Linked DNA regions of Homo sapiens: region 2 is linked to region 1. Evidence: fine-mapped expression QTL. A gene starts in region 1. The other region holds a variant in brackets. All regions are shown on one strand. Distances are between the middles of the regions. Region 1 holds the start of NRROS (negative regulator of reactive oxygen species). Region 2 has its middle 19 kb from the start of CEP19.

Region 1 (2,908 bases):
TAGCTGGGCGTGGTGGTGGGCGCCTGTAATTCCAGCTACTTGGGAGGTTGAGGCAGGAGAATCACTTGAACCTGGGAGGCAGAGGTTGCAGTGAGCTGAGATTGCGCCACTGCTCCAGCCTGGGTGACAGAGCAAGACTGTCTCAAAAAAAAAGAGAGAGAGTTGAGTTTGGGATACATCATGTTATGGTGACTCTGGGACATGTAGCAGTTGATTGACCAGTAGACAGTTAAAAATGCAAGTCTGGATCTTCTCTCGTGGAAGAGAATGTTGGAGCTAGAAATTAAAATTGGGGAGTTACCAACTGATTGGTAGACACAAAAGACATGAAGTAGAGAATGTGCATACAAGAGAGAAAGAGGCCTGAATCAAGCACCTGGGTTTGCAACAATTTGATCTTTATTTAGCTTTTTCATTGGTGTGATTGTTATTACCATTATGAGATAATATTTTATTTTTAAAATTATTTTTATTTTTTTAAAGACGGAGTCACACTCTATCACACAGGCTGAAGTGCAATGGCGTGATCTTGGCTCACTGCAGCCTCAACCTCCCTGTGCTCAGGTGATCCTCCCACCTCAGCCTCCCAAATAGCTGGGACTACAGGTGCGTGCCACCAGGTCTGGCTAAGTTTTAAATTTTTTGTACATATGGAGTCTCAGTATGTTGCCCAGGCTGGTCTTGCACTCAGGCGGTCCACCTGCCTTGGTCTGCCAAAATGCTAGGATTACAAGCCTGAGCCTCTGTGCCCGGCCATGAGTGAATATTGTAGAAAGCAGAGACAATGTGCCAGATGTTTGGAGTGAAAAGGACTTGGCTCCTGTTCTCTTAGGATGGACAATGCTACACACAATCCCAAATCACAGGCTATAAGAGAGGTGACCCAATCCTGCAGGACAGTTCAACGTTTCAGATTTGAAGGGGAGTGAGAGAGATCAGAACTGGAGGCCCCTTGTCTGAGCCCCCGACTATGGTGGTCCACGTCACTCCACACGCAGCAGGCACTGTAAATATTTCACCTTCTCTAGACGACAGTAGTTCCTCGAGAACAGGAGCGCTGGGGTAATGCATATGAAGCTCTTAGCACAGTGTCTGGCGCTGCTTCAATGATGGCTATATGATCAATTATTCTTACTCCTTTGAATTCTTGGCAAGAGCTGGCAGGGAACTTTGTACACATCAGGTACAAAAAAACCCATCCGCGCAGTCTAAGATCAAGAAGCTCTTGGCACTCTCTGACAGTCCTCGACAAAGCAATTCCCCTTCTTTCTAACACAGGGTCCGTAAAGGAGATGATCCACAAGGACCGGCTGAGTGGATAAGAAGACAGACTGGCTGAGCGGCTGACCCTGCCAGACGACAGGCTGTGCCTCTTTACCACGGTGCTGCCGTTCCCAAAGTCGGCCTCAGCTTGGTCCTTGGCTGGAAGCTCGTAGCAAAGTTTCTGGGTCAGCAGACCTCATAGGCAAGGGGCCCCTAGCTGGCCGCCCCCAGCCCTGCCAAGGCACCAACGCAAGAAAGCCGGGGGAGCCTCGGTCGCATTGCTGGAAGATCGTCTAAACATCCCCGCTGCTCGGCCGCTAGGCCGGCAGGTGTTCGGGCCCCGCTCCCCCGGCCCGCCCCACCCCCGCGCCCGCGCCGCGCTTCCCTCTAAGAGGCCGGGTCTGAGTGAGCCTGTGCTGAGTCGCCGAGCAGCCCGCTCTCCATGTGACTTCAGTTTCCGTCCGTTCCTTCCGCTGGTGCTAAAATAATCTGATGCCCCACAGCAAGGAGGTAGCCCAGCCCCGCGTTCGGCTGCTCTCGAGGAGGCCGGAGCCCCCGGAGACGATGCGCCCCGCGCAGCCGCCTGCGCCTGCGGGAGCCGTGAGTATTTCCCGCGTGGGGGCGTCCCCGGGGCACAGCCGGGGCCCTTCTCCAGGTGGGCGAGCTCGAGCGAGGTTGGGTGGTAGGAGGTCAGCGTCCGCGGCCCGCAGCTCAGGGCTCACGAGGAAGCTGTGGCTTGCTGCGTCCAAGCGCCGCCGCTTTTGTGCTGGGCGTGGGGGCTGCAGCTCTGGGTGGAGGTGGAAATACCTCCCTCCAGGAGCACTTAGAGCTGAGAAAGGTGGTGCGACGTAGTGGAAACCACGAGGGCTTCAGATTCAGACGTGGGTTTGAGTCCTGGCTCTGCAGGGAGCATGTGAGCAGACAGTTAAGGTTTCTGAGCCTCAGTTTTCTCATCTGCAAAATGGGAACAGAGATGCTCCCTCCCTGGGCTGGGCGACTGGATATGATGAGACCGCTCTGTGCACACTCAGCATGCTGAGCACTGGGCTCTCCTTTCCTGTCCCACAACGTGGATTGAGAACCACTATCTCATAGATGAAGACACTAAGACTGGTTAACAGCAACACCTATCACAGATGCCGTCCACGTGCCAGGCCTGTCCAAGGCCCTGGGGATACAGCTGTGAAAATGTGCAAAGCCCCTTCTCCCACAGAACGTTTGTCCTTGGGAGATTCACTGGGGCTCTGTGACTTGGATCTTAGCCTAGACTTAGATCCATGGCTTATCAGAGGGAGACTAACAGGAGGGCGACGAAGACTCGGACGCTCTTCCGTAGCCCTCGTGGCCCCTGCATGTGGGCCGGCTTCTGAAGGGGTCAGCGTACTTCCCCACGTACCCAGGAGCTAGACGGAAAGAAGTAAGGAGCCACTGGTGTGGCTTTGTGCTGCCTCTGAGAGAAGGTGGACACGTGCCAGTTGGTGGCTGCGACTGGAGGAGGCCGGATCGGGGGTCCTAGGAATGGAGCCTCTCCGGACAGGGCTGGTCGGGGCTGCTGTGCTTCCCTAGGGGCTGAGGGGACCCCACCGGAGGCTTCTTCATGATGGGCACAGCCCGTTAGGAGTCTGGGTGCTAGAAACATTCAGCG
Region 2 (2,908 bases), 54 kb after region 1:
GGGCTGCTGTAGGGACAGCGGGGTCACTGCTTCACAAAGTCACCCTTCCCGTTGCTGGCGGTTTTGATCTTCAGAGAGTTCTGTCTTTTCTTTTTTCTTCTTCTTCTTTTTTTTTTTTTTTCTGAGGCGGAGTTTTATGCTTTTCCCCCAGGCTAGAGTGTGCAATGGCGTGATCTGGGCTTGCTGCAACCTCTGTCTCCTGGGTTCAAGTGATTCTCCTGCCTCAGCCTCCCGAGTAACTGGAATTACAGGTGCACACAACCACGCCCAGCTAATTTTTGGATTTTTAGTAGAGACGGGGTTTCACCATGTTGGCCAGGCTAGTCTCGAACTCCTGACCTCAAGTGATCCACCCTCCTTGGCCTCCCAAAGTGCTGAGATTACAGGCGTGAGCCACCGCGCCTGGCCAGAAAGTTCTGTCTTTTCTTGAGGTGAGAGCTGCTCCCTAAATTTCCAATCACTGTGCCTAGTTTTTCCCTCTAGAAGTAGTAATATATTCTTCTACGTGAAAGATCTGTAAAGAACTAAAGAGCTTTAAGAGCAATCTTTTAACTTTTGCCTTTTCCAGGCAAAAATCTCATCACTTCTTGCAAAGGATTCTCATGTGACATGGTCACTCTCTGTGGGACACACTCCAGTTTGTCAACATCTTTTAAAATGAGGCTCCTGGAAGAAAACATGGCTCCAGACAGGATCTGATCAGGACCTTTCCCCCATCTGAGCACTAACCCTCAATTAATGTAGCGTAGGCTTACATTAGCTTTCTGGGCAGCCAGTCCACAGAGTGTTCATACTGCGACTGCTGCCAATTGGATGCCCTCTGTCTGTTTCACGTTGTTTTTAGGTTAACTGTTTCCTGTCCTGTGCTCTTGCAGTTGGCATTTCTTAATGCAAGTCATGGACTTTACTTGTGTCTCCATAATATCTTGTCCTGTAGGTGTTAGTCCAGTCACTCAAAATATTATAAAATACAGATCTTTTCCTTTTCTTTTTTTTTTTTTGAGATGGAGTTTTGCTCTTGTTGCCCAGGCTGGAGTGCAGTGGTGCAGTCTCAGCTCACTGCAACCTCCGCCTCCTGGGTTCAAGCA[A/G]TTCTCCTGCCTCAGCCTCCCGAGTATCCAGGATTGCAGGCGTGCACCACCACGCCTGGCTAATTTTGTATTTTTAGTAGAGACGGGGTTCCACCATGTTGGCCAGGATGGTCTCCATCTCCTGACCTAGTGATCCACCCACCTCGGCCTCCCATAGTGCTGGGATTATAGGCATGAGCCACCACGCCCGGCTGGCAAAAGACTTTTTAAAAAAACTTTCACATATTGAACACTTACTCCATGACAGATGCTGTACTATGCATATGGTATCTAACTTCCTCCTTACGCTGGCCCAGTGGAAACAGGTATTAACGTCCCATTTTACAAATGAGAAAACTGGGGAAAGGAACAAAGATGAATGTATCCTGATTTCTGAGGGTCTTTTCGGCTGATGACTGAGCAGGGAGATGTTCTACACACACAGCCATTTAAGCCCCACCCAGCAGTCCTAAGGGAAGAGTTAGGCTCAGCACCGGATGAAAGGCTTGAACCACGGGAGCGAGAGCAGAAGAAAAACTCACTCCTGGTTCCTTCTCCCTAGGGTGACACCTCATCCACCTTTTGAAGAAAGTGGGGCCAGGCATAGGAATGGACCAAGAAAATGAAAAACAGTTAAAGCTGGATTTTAAAAATAAAGCTTATTGAGCATATAATGCTATAAAATGTGCTTGCTCATGCAGTTGTCTTGGATGTAAGACCCTGATATTTGGATACAGTGGCTTTATCAGGATGAAATATTTTTTCTTCCTTGACTTCCACCATGCCCAGTTAATTTTTTGTATTTTTAGTAGAGACGGGGTTTCACCGTGTTAGCCAGGATGGTCTCCATCTCCTGACCTCGTGAGCCGCTGGCCTCGGCCTCCCAAAGTGCTGGAATTACAGGCGTGAGCCACCACGCCCGGCCTTGACTTCCTTTTTTGGTTTTGCGGGAGGGAATGGATTGAGTGAAGGAGGAACCCCACACAGTCTACTCTATCTACACAGCATTTATGACCGTGTGATATTTTTCTTTTTCTTTTTTTTTGCCTATAGTTTCTTGTTGGAAAAAGACACGTTTTCTTGTTGACTGTTGCTCCCCGACAGAAATGTGAGCTCCACGAAAGAAAAGTCCTGGCTTTTCCTCTCTGTATACCTGTTACCCAGAACAGTGCTTGGCACCTGTGAAGTGCTTCAGACATATTCGATCAATAATTAAAGAATGGGTCTATGTATGGCACAGACAACCTAGCGTTTTTAAAAGATGATTTAAAAACAGTGTAAATTCTGAGCAAGGCTCACTCTAGATGTGGAGGTAGTCACGTTTAAATTACAAGAAAAAATTGCAGCCAGGCGTGGTGGCTCACGCCTGTAATCCCAACACTCTGGGAGGCCGAGGCGGGCGGTTCACTTGTGGTCAGGAGTTCAAGCCCAGCCTGACACTCCTCTAATCCCAACTACTCAGGAGGCTGAGGCAGGAGAATCGCTTGAACCCGGGAGGGGGAGGTTGCAGTGAGCCGAGACTGCTCCACTGCACTCCAGCCTGGGCAACAGAGCAAGATACCATCTCAAAAAATAAATAAATAAATAAAAATAAAATAAAATTTTAAAAAAGGATAAGAAATAGAAAAAGAAAAAATTGCTAATACCCAGTGCCAAGCCAGAGCTACCTTTTGATAAAAAACAAATACTGCCCTCTGATGGTAGTAGTTTTTTAATTTTTAATTTTAGCAGCAATAAACATCCTCATTTCCTGAATACCAAACTATGGCTGCCCACGATGGCAGAGCCAGTGGGAGGGACAAGAAGATGCACAATGTGCTTTGCCATCTGAGTCCAGGATA

Evidence for each region. PIP is the estimated chance that this variant, and not a neighbour inherited with it, causes the effect.
Region 2: its variant is the best candidate, but not a certain one, in a credible set for the expression of NRROS in whole blood (TOPMed, PIP 0.65).

Annotation. Positions count from the first base shown.
Region 1 is chr3:196,638,013-196,640,920 of GRCh38, forward strand. It overlaps NRROS (negative regulator of reactive oxygen species), which reads left to right and starts at 1,682. Exons shown (of 3, transcript NM_198565.3): 1 at 1,682-1,863. RefSeq lists silencers at 1,319-1,748, 1,769-1,868 and an enhancer at 2,319-2,438.
Region 2 is chr3:196,691,522-196,694,429 of GRCh38, forward strand. No RefSeq gene overlaps it. Among named protein-coding and RNA genes, the nearest start is that of CEP19, 19 kb to the right of the region's middle. The variant A/G (reference allele first, on the strand shown) is at 1,089.